Linked DNA regions of Homo sapiens. The protein of the gene in region 2 purifies or fractionates together with the protein of the main gene of each other region. This does not show direct contact. Each region holds a gene or a part of one and is shown on either strand. Other genes may lie near its edges.

Region 1 (4,947 bases), on a different chromosome or scaffold from region 2:
CAGGGGTGGGAGGCCGGGTGGGCACAGTGAGGGGGACGCCCTCCCACCGGGGGGTGCTGGGCCTCAGTGTCCCCGCCTCCAGGGAGCCTTCCTGGACCTGCGCTGGGCAGCCTGAGGCTCCCTTCCTGGTGCTCCCTCAGCACTCTGTCTGAGGGAGGCCGAAGCACCCCCGAGCTTTGAGTAGCACGGGGTGGGGGACAGGCAGGGATGGCAAGATCTGTAGCCGCCTGTGTTGGGGGCCCACCCTGGGTAGGTGATGCGCCCGTGGCAGCTCATGGGGTCCTCACGACAGCCTGAGAGGGTGTGTCTGAGGCTGGGGGAGTTGGGTCACTCCCCACAGACACCCTGAGACCCAGAGGTGGAGCATGGGCAAGTGGCAGCCTCTGGCCCTGGGGGGAGCCCCCCCCCCACCTTGTTACGTGACCTGCCAGCCACTGTACCTCCCTTGGACCCCAGCATAAAGCTTTGTGCAAGCTGTGTTGGATTGGCCTGAACTCTAGACAGCCAGAAAGTGGCAGACGGCTGGGGAAACTGAGGCCGGAGAAGGCGTTAGGATCCCGGGCTTCCTCCCAGCGCCAGGGGCTCTCTGCGCCCTGAGTTTGCAAGCTTGGCTGTGGGAGGGCTCTGCTACCCAGCCTGAGGTGGGGTGGTGCCTTCTCTGCAGCCCAGGCCTCCTGCTTGTGGCACTACCAGGCCCCCTAAGGCTACAGCACCGTCCATGATCCAGGCCCAGGGAGTGGGGCTGTCACATCCAGGGATGACTGCACAGCCCCACCTGCCATGGCAGCTGAGGCGGGCCGGTGTGTGTGTGTGTGTCTGCGTGTGTGTGTATGCATGCGGGTGTGTGTATGTTCGCAAACGGCCTTGGCGGCTCTGCCTGCCAGCCGGGAGCAGGCCCTGCGGGGGCTGCTATTTATAAACAGACGTCTGCGGCTCTCCAGTAATCAGGCAGGCAGACAACACTCCCTCCTTCCACCACACTCTGGAGCAGACAGGGAGGTGGCTGTGGCTGTGTCCGATGTGAGCCTGCCCCACCCCTCTGCCTCAGCAGCCCTGGGAGCCCCCCTTCAGTGGTGGCTCTCCTGTTCCTCCAAGCATCCTTCAGGGCAGTGCTGCATGGAAAGAGGAGTGCCTTTTGGAGTTGGAACGTCCAGGTGTGATTTCACAGGCTTGGAATTTTCAGTCCAAGAGGTGCCCGGGTATGGTCTAGGGTGCCAGCCCTGCCCTTCTGCGATCCTGCTCCCTTGCGGCCCTGCCCACCTGTGGCCCTGCCCTCCTGCAGCCCTGCTCTCCTGCGGCCCTGCTCACCTGCAGCATGTACTCGAACTGATAGATGCAGAGCCCGAGCTCGGCCATGCTGGGTTTGAAGAGCTCCCGCAGCCGGTACTCCTGCATCAGCCGCACGAACACACAGAAGGCCTCCTCCTCAGGCATCTAGGGGGGACGGGCAGGTGGGGGGGCTCAGGGCAGCGCAGCGGGGAGGGGCATCTCGCTGCTCATCAGGGCCCTGGGGTACAGGGGCCCATGTCCATGTCGGTACCTGGCTCCCTAGACTCTCATGACACACTGTTGGTCCCTGTGTCCTCACAAGCTGTTTTACTGATGGAAGACCTGAGGCTGAGGTCACCTGCCAAGGGCCACTCGGCAGGAAACAGGGGAGCTGGACCTGAACCCAGGGCTGGCCACTGCCAGCATCCCCCTGGTTAGGATACCTCCTGTCCCAGCTGCGTCCTCTCTCCCTGTCAGCCTCCCGATTTCTCTGGAGGAGACCCCCAAGCCCCATAAACACCACGCTGGATGGCTTAAGTCCCCAGCCTGAGGTTCCTGTCCAACCCTGAGATGTGGCAGAGAGAGACAGCCTATCCCTCCAAACCCGGTCTCTGTCCTGGATGGTACAGCAGACAGGACCCAACCAGACAGGTGCCACTCACTGGGCCTTGGCCTGGCGATTGGCAGAGGTCACGGGTGTGGATGGAGAAGGAGGATCTACCCCTAGCAAGACGCTGGGTGGAGGACACGCCACTTCTGTCCATCTCTTGGGGGCCGAGCCCAGGGTGGGCTGTTGTCTGGCAGGAGCCCAGCCACCCCCCAGCCACCTACCTGCATGAGGAGCAGGCCCACGATGAAGGCGCTTCCCTGGCAGTAGCCCACCTCCCGGTCTACCAGCGAGTATGCCTAGAAGGGAACAAGTCCTGAGAGCAGGGTCCCGCCGTCCAGCACAGCCGGTGAACTGGGGAACTTCTCCTTCCTTTGGGACCGAGGGAGCGGGGAGCCCTGGGCCTCACCTTCATGACGTTGAAGAGGACCTCCTGGCCCAGGCTGTCCTGGCCCTTGAAGAACTCATGTTCCGGGTAGGTGCGGGCGATGTCCCTGCGGATCAGCTTCTCGCACGGCGAGGACATCTTGAGCAGCTCGGAGTACTGGTTCTTGACGGGCATGTCCGTGGCGCTGCACAGAAGCTGCCACACGATGGCCCGGAAGTGGTGGGGGATGCCCTTGCGGATCAGCTCCTGGCCACGGGAGCGGGAAGCGGGGGCTGGACTCGGTCCCAGCGCAGCCTCCCCGTGGCCACCCAGCCCAGCTCCTCAGGCGTGGCTCATCCAGGCCTCAAGCATGGCACAGAACTCATGGTCCCCAATCCTTTTTTTACCCCCTTTTTTCAGAGACAGGGTCTCCCTCTGTCACCCAGGCTGGAGTGCAGTGGTGCGATCATAGCTCCCTGCAGCCTTGAACTCCTGGGCTCAAGCGATCCTCCTGCCTCAGCTTCCTGAGTAGCTGGGACTACAGTTGTGCACCACCACGCCTGGCTAATTTTTAAACTTTTTTTTTTTTTGAGATGGAGTCTCACTCTGTTGCCCACGCCGGAGTGCAGTGGCGTGATCTTGGCTCACTGCTACCTCTTGCCTCCCAGGTTCAAGTGATTCTCCTGCCTCAGCCTCCCAAGTAGCTGGGATTACAGGTGCACGCCACCACGCCCAGCTAATTTTTGTATTTTTAGTAGAGTCGGAGTTTCGCCATGTTGGCCAGGCTGGTCTTGAACTCCTGACCTTAGGTGATCTGCCTGCCTCGACCTTCCAACGAACTGGGATTACAGGCGTGAGCCACTGCGCCCGGCCTACCTGGCTAATTTTTAAACTTTTTATAGAGTCGGAGTCTCATTACGTTGCCCAGGCTGGCCTCGAACTCCTGGCCTCAAGCGATCCTCCCACCTTGGCCGCCCAAAGTGCTGAGATTCCAGGCGTGAGCCACCACACCCCCATCCTTCATGGGCACTACAGGGCAGCAAGCACATGGGCACTCGAGGGTGCAGGGCCTGTCCAGCACCACCCTGACTCACTCTCTCCTGTCCCTGTGCTCTGGCAGGACACCCTGAAAGTGCCTGCACATCTCCACTGCTGCCGCTGTGCCCAGGCTGGGGCCCCGCAGACCCTGGCGCTGCCTGGTGGCTGAGTGACCGCACCACCTGCCCACGCCGTCGGCCCAGCCCTGCCTGCCTGGCCGCCCCCCACCTTGAGCAGCTTCTCCTTCCTGCGCCGCCACTCCTCCCACTCGTTGGCGATCCGGCCCCACAGGATCCACGTGTCCTCCTCCAGGTGGCTCAGGTTGGAGGAGGCCGAGGAGCTGGACACTAGCGAGGAGCCACTGTTCCGCCGCGAGCCATTCATGGAGCGCATGGACTTGGAGTCGGCCTCCAGGAGCCTGGGCAGGAAGGGCCGACAGAGGGGAACCAGTGACTCCCTGGGGACAGGGATCCTTGGCGAGCCCAGCCCATCCTCCCCCTCCTGGGGGTCTTAGAGGACACCAGGGATTAGGTCCCTCTTGTTCTTTTTTTTTTCTTCTTCTTTGAGATGGAGTCTTGCTCTGTCGCCCAGGCTGGAGTGCAGTGGTGTGATCTCAGCTCACTGCAACCTCTGCCTCCTGGTTCAAGCAATTCTCCTGCTTCAGCCTCCTGAGTAGCTGGGATTACAGGTGCATGCCACCACACCTGGCTAACTTTATATTTGTAGTAAATATGGGGTTTCACCATGTTGGTCGGGCTGGTCTCGAACTCCTGACCTCAGGTGATCCACCTGCCTCAGCCTCCTAAACTGCTGGGATTACAGGCTTGAGCCACTGCCCTCAGCGCCCCCTTTTTTTTGAGACGGAGTTTTGCTCTTGTTGCCCAGACTGGAGTGCAGTGGCGTGATCTTGGCTCACTGCAGCGTCCGCCTCCCGGGTTCAAGTGATTCTCCTGCCTCAGGCTCCCAAGTAGCTGAGATTACAGGCACCCACCACCATGCCCAGCTAATTTTTGTGTTTTTAGTAGAGACAGGATTTCACCATGTTGGCCAGGCTGGTCTCAAACACCTGACCTCAAGTGATCCGTCTGCCTCGGCCTCCCAAAGTGTTCGGTGGTGTGAGCCACCACGTCCAGCCTAAAACCTGCATTTTAAATGGGGGTAGGGTCAGAGGAAGAAAGCAGGAAGGCCCGAATCGACTCTTCCTCCAGTCCTGGCTCCATTAACCGCGGCGGATTCACAGATTCACTTGACCTCTCAAACCTTCAGTCTCATCTGAACAGGGTGGGGACACATATATTCAGCCAGGGTTGGGAGGATGAAAGGAGGTGTCTGTCCCTCATCCAGCATCTGGAGGTGGCTGTCACATTGCACACACTGGGCCTGGCTCTGAATGTGAGGGCACCTGGGAACTCCTGTGGGGGCCCAGACTGCACCCCAAGATTTCACCCCATCCCCCAGCCCCCAACTCACCGGTTCTGCTCTTCGAGCTTGGCCAGCAGCTCCAGCTCATCGGGGCTGAGGTTCTCGGAGTCAGAGGTTGGGGAGCAGGTGGGGGCCGACAGGGCCTCCTGGGATGAGGAGTCGGGGCTCAGAGTGGGGCTCGCCATGGTGGGTGGGCTTGTTAGCCGTGAGCGGGGTTGGTTCACAGCTCTGTCTGGGGGCCAGA
Region 2 (5,180 bases):
AGTCCTCCCTGTCCCATGCCTGCTGGCTCTGACCGTTTCCTCTCATGGGTTTGCTTTACCTGTGGCAGCAGGTTGCTGCTTTCCAGGGATGTGTCCAGTGCCCTGGGTTCTTCCCGGTCATCCTGGGGCTCTGCACAGAGCAGCAGAGCTAGAGCCATGAGACCCACAGACTTGGTGCCTGAGCGCAGCTCCAGGGAAGCCCCAGCCCCTTCCAGGCGGGGAACCTGCTTCCTGCCTTCACTGCCCCCGCAGCACTCACAGACATCTCCCTGGGGTCTGGCTCACTGCCTTATCAGGACCTCTGAGTTTTCTGACTTTCTGTGTAGCTTCTCATTTTCATCAGCACAGCATGGGGTCACGGCCCACAGCTAGGTGGGGTCACGGCCCACAGCTAGGTGGGGACTGTCTGCTGGCTCAGGGCCCAGTGTTTTGCCACTCAGGTTGCAAAATTAGCTAATCCTTCAGTGCCAGCACTCAGAAGTCTGGCAGGTGGGGGAATGAGATGAGAAAGTGGACATTTAAGGTCCAAGTAGAAGCTTGCATCCTTGAGGCTCAGGGATGAGAGGGCACCGCAAGGCACCCAGCCTTACCCCACAAGCAGGAATCCTGCCAGCCGAGCGTGGGTCCCAGTCTATGGAATCGAGTCTCCCAGACAAAAAAGGAGAGGCCCTGGCGGTCCTTGGCCTGGCCCATTTTATTCCCTGGACCCTTAACTGCCTCACCCTGAGCTGGGCACCAAGGTTAGAAGGCAAAAGTGGGGTAGGGGGATGTGGGAAGCAGCATTGTCCTCTGGGCATGTGGCTCAGAGGTATCACAGTGACAAAAGAGCCAGGGCTAGGGCTGGAGGGGCCAGGTGATCTTCCTTAGCCAATCCCAGTCCGTCTGTGTCAGCCCAGCTCTGCCTCGCAGCCCCCTCAGCATGGGTGCCCCCAGAAGTAAGCAGCTCTTGGACCCACGAGCAGGGCTGCGTCGGTTTGTGGTCTAGCTCCCAGGGGCAGGCCAGGCATGGCTCAGTGCAGTCCCTGGGCCAGTGAGAGGCCTCCCCCATGCCTCCCTGCCCTCTGCACTAAGCACTTTCCAGGCAGGCCTGGCCATAGGGCAAGAGCAGGCCTTACAGCAGTGCCACGGTGACCCAAGAGGCAGGGTTGGGGCCTGGACAGGGTTTCCTCTGCTGAGACTGAGACAAGCAGGGCTTGATGCTGGTGGTGGAGCCAGCATCTCACCTGCCAGGCTTCCTTTTGGGCAGGGAGGCTACCTGTGGAATGGCTGAGCCTGGTTCTGCAGGGGAGGAAGGCTGCCAGGAGCTGAGGGGCTAGCACCTGCATTGAGGGGAGTCTGGGTGCATCAGATTGGGGGGCGCCAGAGGCGAGGCTGCCTGGCTCCCTTTCTCAGCAGCTTTGCTTGTGGCAGGGGTGAGAGTGGAGCTGAGTGGGGTCTGGGCTCTGCCCCTGCGCCTCCACTGCAGTGCCTGGGCTCCCCTTGCAGGGCAGACAGTGCCTGGCACTGAGGGGTGCCCCCAGACCCCGCTGGGACTGGATGTGCCGTGGGCAGTGCCTTCCTCCAGCCTCACAACCTTTCTGCTGGGGCTGAAGTTTCTGGGGTCACATGGTCAGAAGGGGCTGAGCTGGTCTTTCACTGCAGGCCCACTCTGAAAGAGAAATCCCATGAAGCCTGTCCTTGCAGAGCCCCTCTGTTTTTGGGGGAACAGGGAGCATTCACAGGGTCTTGGGAACAAAGGCCTGGGCCTCCCCGTTTGAATTTCAGCCCCAGTTCCAGGGCAAGTCCCAGCCACCCAAGCATACTTACCAGTACTGCCCACCACCACCCACTGCCCACCTCTAAGAAGCCCGGCTCTCCTACTCTGCTTCCAGGCTGGGGCCTCACAGGTGGGGCTGTTACCTTCCTCAGGGCTTAGGGAGGGAGGGAGGACATGGACAGGGCCTTCCACCCTGGCTCCTTCACAGGGATGGTAGCTGACCGGTGATGGGTTCATTTGTCACCTTGGACTGTGAGCCACTTCCACTTCTCGCCCCCCAGGCAGGAGCACCCTCACTCCAAGGGCTTGGCCTGGAAAGGCAGGCTCACCTGGGACTCAACGTTCCTTCCCCCGCCGCCACTGTGCCCCCCGTCCCTCCACCCCAGAAGCCCTGACCTCATTTGGGCACCTTGCTGTCCTCTGGGCTTCTCCTCTGCCCAGGTCACCCTGTGGCAGGCCTGGGCCCTCAGGATGTTTCAAAGGCTCCACAGCTCCACCGCTCCACCTGGCTTCACTCCAGCACCCTGTCCCTGGAGCACCTCTGTCCTGTCTGGGCCAACCTGGTCTCCCTGCCCCATGCCCTCCCCTGGCTCTTAGCAACCTGCCCTTTTATTCATGCCATTTGGGGTCACAGATGCCTAGCTGGACACAGCTCCCAGAACTGGCTCCACCCTGGGGCCTTGCCCCTAGTACCCCCTGGCAGGAGCAACCCACCCCATGGTCGAGGTTCCCCTACCCCTGGATCCTGGACTGAAGCCATTTCCTACAGAGAAGCGTTCCCACCCCCTCTCAGGCACAAAAGCCGGTGTCCAGGGACTCAAGACCTGTACCTGGGGTTGCAGGGGCTCCTGCCCTGCTGTATCCCACCAGGAGGGGGCCCCACTGCCCTTCCGGCCCTTAAAACTGGGCTGGGAGAGAAGACGGGGAAGTGTGTGAGACAAAACAAAGCCGGCTTGTTTCCTCCCCTTGGCAGGCTAAGCTCTCCCGGCAGCCCGGGCTCTGGGGCGGAAGGAGAACAGTGTCATCTCTTCCTTTGTTGATAAATTGCCAAAGAGTGGGAACAGGTGGGGTCAGGGGCCAGAGTGCAGGGGAGGGGGCAATGGTGGAGGTGGCGGGGGGAAGCAGAGGGAGGTGGGCTGAGGCCTCGGTGGGGCCAGTGCGACGCTGGCTTAAGGAGCTGGAGGGGTTCCTAATACACATTTAATTCAGTTTCTCTTCCCTAAGAGGCTGCCGGAGTTGGGGCCTCCTCCAGCAGAGACCCTCGGACCCCTGCAGGGCCTGGACTTGGGGTGAACAGGGCTTCAGTCAGCGCAAGTATTCCATTTGCATTTGGTAATTTTTCATGCCACCTATTTATGAATATATAAATCTTTATACCAAATCTATTTTTTAAAACATGGAAAAGTTGCCTTTATGGAAACTTGGCAGAGCCAGAGTGTACACATTCCTAAACCATTAAACAGATTTCTATAACAAGCCACTGCGCCCAGGACTGGTTCTCTGATCTTTGAGCCCAGAGGCGGCCCAGGTGGCCACGTGCCTCAACTAGTCTCCAGGCCCGGGGTGGTAGACAAGCTGCCCCCTGCCAGTCTGCCACCCAGAGCACTGTGAGACCTTCCCTCTGTCCCTAAACCCTTGGGGGACCCCCCTGAGCAAGAAGCAGTTGGTGCCTGAGGGGCAGAGGAAGCTTGGGCTGGGTCCCTTCTCTGGGACACCCCAGGTTCCTCCCATTGGGTTTGTGTTGGAGAGGGCTCTTTGGTGATTGGCAGGGGCACCCTCACCCCGACCTCCCCATGAGGGAAGCGTCACTCTCCTGAGCACACAGGCCTGGATGAGGAATCCCTTGCCCGGGTCTTGTAGCCACATTGATCCCACAGTGGCAGGAACAACCCACCCCATGGTCGAGGTTCCCCCCACCCCTGGATCCTGGGCTGAAGACATTTCCTACAGAGAAGTGTTCTCACCCCCTCTCAGACACAAACGCCAGTGTCCAGGGGCTCAGGGCCTGTGCCTGGGCTTTGGGGGGCTCTGACCTGTTGTTATTCCGAGTTAGGACTTAAGAACACCATGAGGGGCTCTTGCTTCTGTGATGTGACCAGCACAGAGATGTTACCAGGCACACAGTAGATGCTCAGCTTAGAGAAGTGCCTGAATCAGGTCTCTGGCACTGGGAAGCCCATGAAATCCATAGCCTGCCCACCAATATAATCAGGGGTCTATTCCTGGTCACTCAAATAAGGGGTTTTCTGCCGAAAGGGACTCTTAAACAGCAGGGCTGCTGGTTGGTCACCCTGAGGAAGAAGAGGGGGGCCTAGCAGTGCTGCACCACCTTGCCAAGCCTGAGACAAACTGACATGATGGGGCTCATAGCAGCCTGCCGTTGAAACCTAGGTGTGCCCTGACTGTCCTGTGGTTCTGGGCAGGTCACTTCTCCTCTCTGGGCCTTGGTTTCCTCAAACCTGGGATCCTATTCCCTGTCCCATTTGCATCCCGGGGAGCCCTGAAGAGACCCCAGGAGGGGAGTGCTTTATGCACTGAAGGCCTGGAACAGGGCACTGGAGGAGGAAGACCCAGAGCCCTGGCTCTCAAGACAGGCCTGGCTCCAGGCACCTGCCATCCTTCCCAGGGAGAAGGAAGGCCTGATGTCTGAACTCCCTCTTCTCTTCTGAATGCCAGGAAGCACCAGAGTGCGCGTGTGCCCCTTGTAAGTCAAACCCATAACCAGGCCTGTCTGAGCCCGGCCATCCGCACGCTCCCAAGAGGCTCAGACCTGGGTCAGTCTGTCCCTAGGGCCCTCTGAGGCCTCTACCCAAACAACAGGACTGCCCAGACCCCAGAGCAAACAGACAGCACAGGTCCACTCCTTGACTTCAAAGTATGGAAGCTGAGACTGGATCCCAGAGAGTCTTGCTCAAAGCCCCACGATGTTCACTTCTGAGCCCCCACCTGCACGCCCAAGCTGGGTGCTGGGTCCCAGAGGTGAGTCTGCCTTGCTGCCTCCAAGGGCTCCCAAAGCTCCAACCTGGACCCCACTCCTCCCTGCACACATTTGCCGCTGGGATTGGCCAGCCCCGCCCTCAGGGAAGCCAGGAGGCAGGGGGGCCCCTTCCCTGTCCTCACCTTCACCCTGGCTACTCCCATCCCCACCCAGCCCACCCACCTCCTGCCTGGGCCTCTGCCCCAGCCTCTTCCTGACCTGGTCCTGCCTGGGCATCTCCTTGTGGCTGCAGAGAGCATCCTCAAGCAAGACCCCTAGCCACAAGGTCCCGACTCCCTCACTCAAGACCTCTTCCACGGTCCTTGTGGCCCTCGGGCTCCTTAGAGAGGGCCCAGCATTGGCCACTCTCCCCTGACCTGGCCACACACAGCCACACGCTGCTCTGCCACCCCCAGTCTGAGCTGCTCCCCGCAGACCGACCATCTC
Region 3 (4,947 bases), on a different chromosome or scaffold from region 2:
TATCCATATAATGGAATACTATGCAGCCATTAAAATTTTGATACTTTTATTATTCACTGAAATAGAAAGACAGTTATGTATTAAATGAAAAAGAGACTATTATGCATTATATGCCTATGTCAAAATATCTCATGTAACCCATAAAAATATATATCTACTATGCACCCATAAAAATTAAAAATTGTTTAAAAAGATGTTACTGAACTGGTTATATATTTTGGTTAAAAATTTATATTTTTATATATCAGCATATTTTAAAATCTACAAAGTTATACAGCAAATTGTTACCACGAAGTATCTTTTTTTTTTTTTCCTTTTCAAGATGGAGTCTCGCCCTGTTGTCCAGGCTAGAGTGGAGTGGCACGATCTTGGCTCACTGAAACTTCCACCTCCCAGGTTCAAGCCATTCTCCTGCCTCAGCCTCCCAAGCAGCTGGGATTACAGGCACGTGCCACCACACTGGACTTTGTGTTTTTAGTAGAGACAGGGTTTAGTATTTTTGTATTTTTAGTAGAGATGGGGTTTCACCATGTTGGCCAGACTGGTCTGGAACTCCTAATCTCAAGTGATCTGCCCGCCTCGGCCTCCCACAGTGCTGGGATTATAGGCGTGAGCCACTGTGCCCAGCCAACCACTAAGCATCTCTAGATGATGGGATTGGGGTAATAATCATTTTTCTTTCTTTGTTTTGCTATGTGTTAACAATGAATATATTATTTGAATAATAAACCACTGAAGGAAAACTTTAGGAAATTTTCAGATGTTATAATTTACAAAAAGTAATTGATAATATGGTCTGTATTTCCTTAAATTTATAATTTAAACATTGCAATCTATATACTTAAATTTTACCTTTTATAAGTCTTTTAAGAGAGTCCAACTGTGTAGTAAGCAGTATTTCTTCGTTTTTTAATATCTCAAATTTAACTTCATATAGTTCTAATTGAATTTCATAAAATTGTATTTCTAATTCATCTACAACATTTGTATTTTTTTCTTGTTCTGGAAGATCTTCCATCTTATTTTCATAGAAAAAAGAAAAATAAGTTAAAATAAATTAGTATATTAAAAACAAACTTTAGAAGCATTCTAGCTATTTTCTATTCCTTGTTCAGTACTAAATATAACAAAGCAAATAGGAAAGAAACACTTTTTCATTTCATCTAGTGATGCAAATACTTTATCTCATCCTTGAAACAGAGGAAAACATTTAGGTTCTGAGAAACATAAATGGCAATGAGGTATTATTATGTACTGCATATTGGTGTCCCCCCAAAAATTCGTATGTTGACACTCTAACTCCCAGTGTGATGTTATTTGGAGGTGGGTCCTTTGGAAGTAATTAAGTTCAGATTATGTCAAAAGGATAGCACCCCCATCATGGGATTAGTGCCTTTATTAGAAGAGAAAGAGAGGGATCACTTTCTTTCTAAACATACACACAGAAGAAAGGCTATATGAGCACTCAGTTAAGAAGGCAGCTGTCTACCAGACAGGAAGAGGATCCTCACCGGACAGTGAATCTGCAGGCACCTTGATCTTGGACTTTCCAGCCTCCAGAACTGTGAGAAATACATGTCCGTTGTTTAAGCCACCCAATCTGTGATATTTAATCTTGTTATAGAAGCCTGAGCCAACTAAGACAGGTGTTTACAGTGTTTTCTGCTTTAAAGTCATAAGATTATAGGAAAAAATTTAAGTGACTATGCAGTGAAGTATCTCTTTGATTATTTTAAAGTTGTAGTGAAAACATTGCTGGGTTGATTTTCAAGTACAGTACCCATTTCAATACTGAGCTTGGTATTACTATAAAGTGAAACCTACAATATGGTATTTTGAAACATCTTAACCAAAGGAAAACTTTATGTCTAACCTTCCACAGAAGATGGTGTTGGAATAAGCGAAGAAAAGAAGCTCTTTAACGATGCCTGGAAAGAAAAGTGCTATCTAAAAATAAAAGTGTGCTTTACCACATGGTCTCACTTATAAGTGGGAGCTAAGTAATGTGTATACACAGTGTGGAATAATACACACTGGAGACTCAGAAGAGTAAGAGGGTGGGAGGGGGGATGAGAAATATTTAATAGGTACAATTACATTATACAGGTGATGATTACACTAAAAGCCCAAACTTCACCACTACACAATATATCCATGGAACAAAAACTGCACTTGTATCCTTTATTTATACAAAATGTTTTAAAAATAAAAGTGTATTTTTAAAACAAAGTTATGTTTATCTTTGTCTTACCTTTCCCTGAATTTCAGCTCTTTTGTGATTTAAACACAACTCTTTCGCTCTCATGAGTTGCAGAGTCTCTCGAGCTAGCATTAGCTGAAGTTTTTCCAACCTGGGAATTGCTGTGGCCCAGGCAGCCTGACCAAATCTCTTCGCATCCTGTTCCATTTCTTTCTGCATTCCTGTTGGATTATAAAAATAAAATATAATTACACCTCATTAAAAAGGGAAACATTTATCATGAGCTAATCCTTTTTTTATTGCCTCCATACTACCTGCAGAATATCCTTTTTAAAAGAAATTTTATTAACTTTTTTATTATGATAAAAATAATACATGTTCATTGATATAAAATTTTAGGTATTCCATTTTTAAAAAGACAGTAAGTCATGATCTCACCTAGTTGAGGCAACTGCTTCTTATATTTTGGCACACTTGCTTCCATATTGTTTCTATGTCTAGCTAGACAGACAGGCTCATATGGATAGTTTGACCACAAAACCAGGATCATCATTCTGCTTTCTATCTTGTTGATTCTGCACAATGTATCAGAAACTCTTGCCACTCATAAAAAAAAATCAAGAATCATGCTTAACAGCTACGTAGTTTTCTGTTTTATGAAGGTACCATAACTTAACAAACTGACAGACGTTAAGTTGTTTCCTACTTGGTGTTTTTATCAACAATTATTTAAGACTAAAAAAAAGTCCTTCACCCAGCCCACAAGCCCCTGCATGGTCTGACCCCTGCCTGTCTGGCCAGCATTTTCCCTCATACCACACTGTCCTGCACTCTCTGCGATCCAGCCCCGCAGGTTTTCTTTAAGCTCCTAATTTGCCAACTTCCCTCAAGGCAGGGGACTTTTGGCAGTGCTATTCCTTCTGCCCGGAATACTCCTCACTTTTTATTTTCTCTCAACTTCCATTTACCCTTCAGATATTGGGGCAAGCGCCACTTCTCAGAGGCCTTCAGTGACCACCACCCTGATCAAGCCCAATTTCTCTCTCACAGACCCTCAGAGCCCATGTCTCTCTTCTTTGTGCCATTTACTGTCACTGCCATTTTCCATGTGCTTCAATGAATAGATAATTAAGATTTCTCTCCCTTCACCAGACTGTACAACGTCTCTTAACGCTTGACACTGAATTCTCAGCACCTAGAAAACATAGTACCTAGTGCGTAAGAGGGACTCAAATGGTATTTGAATAAAATGATAATCAATTACATGTATCTTCATATAGCATTTTTTAAATTATCACCTGCTAATGCTTTTACTGTCTCCTTAAAATAATTCACTGTGATATCCTGAATAGAGACGACAGCTTCTTCAGCCCGTCTGGTCCATTCTTCAGCTTCTTTCTCCAGGGCAACTACCCTTCTAGGACCTAGGTCATCCTCATCCAAAGACTTCTACAGACAGAAGGGAAAATTTTCTTAGTAAGAGCTAATAGTTATGTAGAGCCATTAGGAAATTGAAAGGAAATTGGTCACATGGATTAATTTAACTACACTACTACTCAGTCAATTAAATTTTCATTCATTCAGCAGTCCCTTACTGCGTATGAATAAGGCTCTAAGCTGAGCACCACCTGTAAGACAAAAGGACACTCTGGGGCATAAAGCGAAAAAAAAACCCACTTTCACTTCACATGCCTAGAATAACTTTTTCTAGAGAGGAATGTTGTCAACTTATGCTTCTATTAATAATAATACACAATTGTTTAAATGAGTGATCTGTGTTGTCAAGCACTCAGCATAGGGCCTGGAACACAGCACTTAAGTATTAGCTGTTGTTACTGTTTCTTTTAGGGATATGTAATATAATCACCTAAAATATAGTATCTGTATATTCATGCTTATAACATGTACTGGTATTGGACTCCCCCCAAAATGCATATGTTGAAGCCTAAATCCCCAGTGTGATCATATTTGAAGATGGGGCCTTTGGGGGGTAATTAGGTCATGAGGGTGGAACCCTCAAGAATGGGATTAATGCCCTTATAAAAAGAAGAGGAGACACAGGATCTCTCTTTCTCTGCTCTTCACCATGCGAAGACACAGCAAGACAGTCATCTACAAATTAAGAAACTGGCCCTCACAAGACAATGGATCTGTGAGCACCTTGATCTCAGACTACCCAGCCTCCAGAACTGTGAAAAAAAAGTTTTGTTGTTTATAAGCCACTAATCTACGGTACTTTGTTATAACAGCCTGAACTAAGACGTGTACTGCTATGTCATCCAATATGCAATTTTTCTTCTACAAAGCCTAAGAAATATGTACAAGTTAGCCGACAAGGAATTACAAATCAAAACCATAACGAGATACCACTTCACACCCACTAGGATGGCTGTAACCAAAGAGACACACAGTAACAAGTGCTGGTGATAATGTGGACAAACCGGAACCCTCATTTACTGCTTTTGGGAATATAAAATATGCACCCACTTTGGAAAACTGTCTGGCAGTCTTTCAAAAGGTTAAACATTGAGTAATCACAGGACCCAGCAATCCTACTCCTTAGTACATACACAAGAGCAATGAAAACATATGTCTACACAGAAACTTACACACAAACATTCACAGAATTATTCATAATAGCCAAAAAGTGGAAACAACCCAAATGTCCATCAACTGATAAATAAAATGTAATATATCCATACAATGAATATTACTCAGCAATAAAAAGAAATGAAATCCTGATATTT
Region 4 (4,947 bases), on a different chromosome or scaffold from region 2:
GACTAGCAGCTTCAGCATCACCTGGGAACTTGTTTGTGTTAGTCCATTTTCATGCTGCTGATAAAGACATACCCGAGACTGGGCAATTTACACAGGAAAGAGGTTTAATCGGACTTACATTTCCACATGGCTGGGGAAGCCTCACAATCATGGCGGAAGACAAACAGGAGCAATCACGTCTTACATGGATGACAGCAGGCAAAGAGAGAGCTTGTGCAGGAAGACTCCCCTTTCCCAAAACCATCAGATCTCATGAGACTTATTCACTATCACAAGAACAGCATGGGGAACACCTGCCCCCAAAATTCAATTACCTCCCACTGGGTCCCTCCCACAACACGTGGGAATTCAAGATGAGATTTGGGTGGGGACACAGCCAAACCATATCATTGTTAAAAATGCAAATTATCGGTACCCCAGACCTATTAAATCAGAAACTGGGAGGCAGCCATATGTGCTTCAGCAAGCCCTCCAACCATTTCCAATGCTTGCTAAAGCTTAAGAACCACTGCTTCCGGCCACGTTGGGAGGCCAAGGCGGGCGGATCACGAGGTCAGGAGATCGAGACCATCCTGGCTAACATGGTGAAACCCCATCTCTACTAAAAATACAAAAAATTAGCCCGGAGTGGTGGCAGGTGCCTGTAGTCCCAGCTACTCAGAAGGCTGAGGCAGGAGAATGGTGTAAACCCGCAAGGCAGAGCATGCAGTAAGCCGAGATCATGCCACTGCACTCCAGCCTGAGCAACAGAGCGAGACTCCGTCTCAAAAAAAAAAAAAAAAAGAACCACTGCTTCCTACAAAGGTCCTAACAATCTTAAGCCAGAAAAAGGATGGACACCTCTCAACAGTAACCACAACTATGACCATTCAAAAATACTCAACTTCATAAACATAATGGCTGGGCAGAAAATTGAACTCTGTGAAATCCAAAGTATCATTGAATTCTGGTCTCCTTTCTTTGAGATGTCAAATACAAATCAGGAAGTTTATACTCTTTTTTTTTTTTTGAGACAGGGTCTCACTCTGTCACCCAGGCTGGAGTGCAGTGGCGCGATCTCAGCTCACTGCAAGCTCCACCTCCCGGGTTCACGCCATTCTCCTGCCTCAGCCTCCCAAGTAGCTGGGACTACAGGTGCCCGCCACCACGCCCAGCTAATTTTTTTGTATTTTTAGTAGAGACGGGGTTTCACTGTGTTAGCTGGGATGGTCTCGATCTCCTGACCTCATGGTCTGCCCGCCTCAGCCTCCCAAAGTGCTGTGATTACAGGCGTGAGCCACTGCACCCAGCCATATACTCTAAAATCTCAAGTCAGCTGAAGTCTTTCAAACTTGAAATAAATGTACATGAGACAGCTACATTTAAGACCATATTAGAATAGTCAAAACTGTAAAAAAAAATGCATTTAGTACTTAGATTTCTAACTTCAACATTTTACCATTTCTCTCTTGAATTATTCGAATGGCTTGCAGCTGCATTTCAATGTTTTTCTGGACCATCATTGCTTTAAAGATAGTAAAATCTTCTGCTGCCAACACAGGTTGCAAAATGGCCTGTGGAAAGAAGTCTCAAGTGAAATGAAGATTCAAGTTTTAAAACTATTACCCATACATTCGAACCATTTCTACTGCAAAACAGTAGATTAATTCAAGAATGCTACATTGTTATTTATGATTAGATGTCCCAAAAGGACAATTTTAAAATTTATCTTAATAGCCTTTAAAACAGGGTTCTCAGCCGGGCACGGTGGCTCACACCTGTAAACCCAATACTTTGGGCGGCTGAGGCAGGCAGAACACTTGAGGTCAGGAGTTCAAGATTAGCCTAGCCAACATGGTGAAACCCCATCTCTACTAAAAAAATAAAAAAATTAGCCAGGTGCGGTGGTGCATACCTGTAGTCCCAGCTACTCAGGAGGCTGAGACCGGAGAATCATTTGAACCAGGAGACAGAGGTTGCAGTGAGCCAAGATCGCACCTCTGCACTCCAGCCTGGGTGACAGAGCAAGACTCCGTCTCAAAAAAAAAAAAATTTTTCAAAAGGATCAGTATTGTGATATGCAAATTATATCTCAATAAAGTTGTTTAAAAAAAAAGAAAGCTGGAGTAGCTTAATTTAGTTTCAGATAAAGTAGACCTCAGAACAAGAAAGATGATCAGCAATAAAGAGGGGCATTTGTTTATAATTCTATAAAATATAATACTTTATGATTATTCTATGATTACATATTTTATATATAATTATATAATTCCTTATAATTCTATAAAACAAAAATTGTGGCCAGGCGCAGTGGCTTATGCCTGTAATCCCAGCACTTTGGGAGGCTGAGGTGGGCAGATTACCTGAGGTCAGCAGTTTGAGACCAGCCTGGCCAACATGGCGGAAGGTGTGTACCACATCACCCTGCTAATTTTTTTGTATTTTATAGAGTTGGAGTTTCACCATGTTGCCCAGGCTTGTCTCAAACTCCTGAGCTCAAGCAATCTGCCCACCTTGGCCTCCCAAAGTGCTGGAATTATAGGCATGAGCCACCATGCCTGGCCCACATGTGTTTTTTAGAGTGTGTTGTTTAATCTCCAAGTATTTTGTTTTTTTCCAATTATCTTTTGTTATTTATTTCCAGTTTAATTATGTTGTGGTCTGAGAGCAGACACTGTATGATCTCTCTTCTTTTAAATTTGTTAAGGTATGTTTTATGGCCCATAATGTAGTCTGTCTTGACGAACATTCTGTGTGATCTTGAGAAGAATGTGTATTTTTGATTATTGGATGAAGTGGTGTATGTCAAATAAATTCAGTTGACTGAAGGTGCTGTTGTTTGTTTATTTATTTATTTATTTATTTATTTTGAAATGCAGTCTTGTTCTGTCACCCAGGCTGGAGTGCAGTGGCGCGATCTCAGCTCACCGCAACCTCCACCTCCCAGGTTCAAGCGATTCTCTTGCCTCAGCCTCCTGAGTAGCTGGGATTACAGGTGCCCACTACCACACCCGGCTAATTTTTGTATTTTTAGTAGAGACGGGTTTCACCACGTTGGCCAGGCTGGTCTCGAACTCCTGACCTCAAGTGATCCACCCACCTCGGCCTCCCAAAGTTCTGGGATTACAGGCATGAGCCACCGTGCCTGGCCTGAAGGTGCTGTTTAGTTCAACTATGTCTTTACTGATTTTCTAACTACTGGATCTGTCCAATACTGACAGAGGGTGTTGAAGTCTCCAACTATAATCATGTATTCATCCATTTCTCCTTGCAGTTCCGTTTCTGCCTCACACATTTTGTTGCTTTGTTATTAGGTACATACATATTAAAGATTGTTATGTCTTCTTGGAAATTGCCAGATTTTTTCACATTAATGTGGGCATACCAATAACATTTAAATTATTTTATTATTATTATTATTTTAGAGACAGGGTCTCACTCTGCAGCCCAGGCTGGAATACAGTGGTACAGTCATAGCTCACTGCAGCCTCAAATTCTTGGGCTCAAGCAATCCTCCCACTTCAGCTTCCCAAGTAGCTAGGACTACAGCAGCGTGTCACCATGCCCAGCTAATTCTTGTATTTTTATTTTTTGTAGAGATGGGGTCTTGCATTGTGGCCTAGGCTGGTATTGAGACCCTGGCCTAAAGTAATCCTCCTGCCTCAGCCTCCCAAAGCATTGGGATTACAGGTATGAGCTATCACACCCAGCCAAAATGTAGTGGCTCACACCTGTAACCCCAGAGCTTTGGGAGGGTGAGGCAGGAGGATTGCTTGATGCCAGGACCTCAAGACCAGCCTGGACAACACAGCATGACCCCCTCTCTACAAAACAACTGAAAAATTAGCCAGGCATAATGGTGCACACCTATAGTCCTAGCTACTCAGGAGGCTGAGGCAGGAGATTCACTTGAACCCAGGAGTTAGAGGTTGCATAGAACTATGACTGAGCGACTGCAGTCCAGCCAGGGTGGCAGAGAAAGACTCTGTCTCAAAAACAAAAACAAACAAACAAAAAAGGTTTTCTATTCCTAGAATTAAAGGTGATCATCAAATGAAAAGTTGTGCAAAAGAGGAAGTGCTGGATTAAAAAGTAGTCAAGGCAACCTCTTCTAGGCCATCATAACAAGACAATTTAAATTAATAAACATTTATTGAGAACTATGTACTAGCAACTAAGTTTTCATCTCTGTTCTACCAGCAGGGAATGCAAATATACTAAACACAGCTCAAAGGACTTACAATTTAGTAGGGCAAATAGACTTGTAGGAAACTATAATTCAAGGCAGAGTAACAAAAATATCAATTTACAATTGGCCTAGTTAAGTAGATTGAATTCTGGTCTGACTTTAGAATAAGCAGCAAAGCTGCTATAACAAGTAGCATTTCAACCAGGCCCTGATAATGAGGATTTCTCCGCATTATGAAAGGAATGATGGAGTGGTCTGGGGAGGGGACCATACATTCCAGGTTAAGGGACAGCATGAGCAAAGGTAGGTGTACAGATGCTTATAAGAGCAAGGGGCAGCAGGGCGTGGTGGCTCACGCCTGTAATCCCAGCACTTTGGGAGGCCGAGGCGGGTGGATCGCCTGAGGTCAGGTGTTCCAGCTTGGCCAACATAGTGAAACCCTGCCTCTACTAAAAATACAAAAACTTAGCCGGGCATGGTGGTGGGAGCCTGTAATCCCAGCTACTTGGGAGGCTGAGGCAGGAGAATCACTTGAACCTAGGAGACGGAGGTTGCAGTGAGCCGAGATTGTGCCATTGCACTCCAGCCTGAGCAACAAGAGCGAAACTCTATCTCAAAAGAAAAAAAAAAGAGAGCAAGTTACCTGGAATGGCAGTAGAACATAATGTATTGGAGAACTATAGCAAGGGATCATGGCTAAAAATACAATCTGGAGTCTCATCTTAAACAATTCTTACCATATCTTGCTAAGAAATTACAGTTTATTTAGTAGAAGATGA

The links. Proteins that work in one complex are often made in the same cells at the same time.
Region 1: the proteins of RAB43 (region 2) and EVI5L purify together in Homo sapiens (affinity purification with mass spectrometry; one large-scale study listed by BioGRID and IntAct). This does not show direct contact.
Region 3: the proteins of RAB43 (region 2) and WHAMM purify together in Homo sapiens (affinity purification with mass spectrometry; one large-scale study listed by BioGRID and IntAct). This does not show direct contact.
Region 4: the proteins of RAB43 (region 2) and CFAP36 fractionate together in Homo sapiens (co-fractionation; one large-scale study listed by BioGRID). This does not show direct contact.

Annotation. Positions count from the first base shown.
Region 1 is NC_000019.10:7,846,484-7,851,430, reverse strand, and holds part of EVI5L (EVI5-like protein), read right to left. Parts: intron 4,936-4,947; 5' UTR 4,889-4,935; coding exon 4,752-4,888; intron 3,700-4,751; coding exon 3,510-3,699; intron 2,511-3,509; coding exon 2,286-2,510; intron 2,176-2,285; coding exon 2,101-2,175; intron 1,435-2,100; coding exon 1,309-1,434; intron 1-1,308. UniProt on the Homo sapiens protein: Functions as a GTPase-activating protein (GAP) with a broad specificity.
Region 2 is NC_000003.12:129,085,625-129,090,804, reverse strand, and holds the end of RAB43 (ras-related protein Rab-43), read left to right. Parts: 3' UTR 1-3,233; downstream 3,234-5,180. UniProt on the Homo sapiens protein: The small GTPases Rab are key regulators of intracellular membrane trafficking, from the formation of transport vesicles to their fusion with membranes.
Region 3 is NC_000015.10:82,815,394-82,820,340, reverse strand, and holds part of WHAMM (WASP homolog-associated protein with actin, membranes and microtubules), read right to left. Parts: intron 3,650-4,947; coding exon 3,499-3,649; intron 3,463-3,498; exon of another isoform or gene 2,754-3,462; coding exon of another isoform or gene 2,639-2,753; intron 2,422-2,638; coding exon 2,252-2,421; intron 1,019-2,251; coding exon 853-1,018; intron 1-852. UniProt on the Homo sapiens protein: Acts as a nucleation-promoting factor (NPF) that stimulates Arp2/3-mediated actin polymerization both at the Golgi apparatus and along tubular membranes. Its activity in membrane tubulation requires F-actin and interaction with microtubules.
Region 4 is NC_000002.12:55,525,484-55,530,430, reverse strand, and holds part of CFAP36 (cilia- and flagella-associated protein 36), read right to left. Parts: intron 1,554-4,947; coding exon 1,439-1,553; intron 994-1,438; exon of another isoform or gene 1-993. UniProt on the Homo sapiens protein: May act as an effector for ARL3.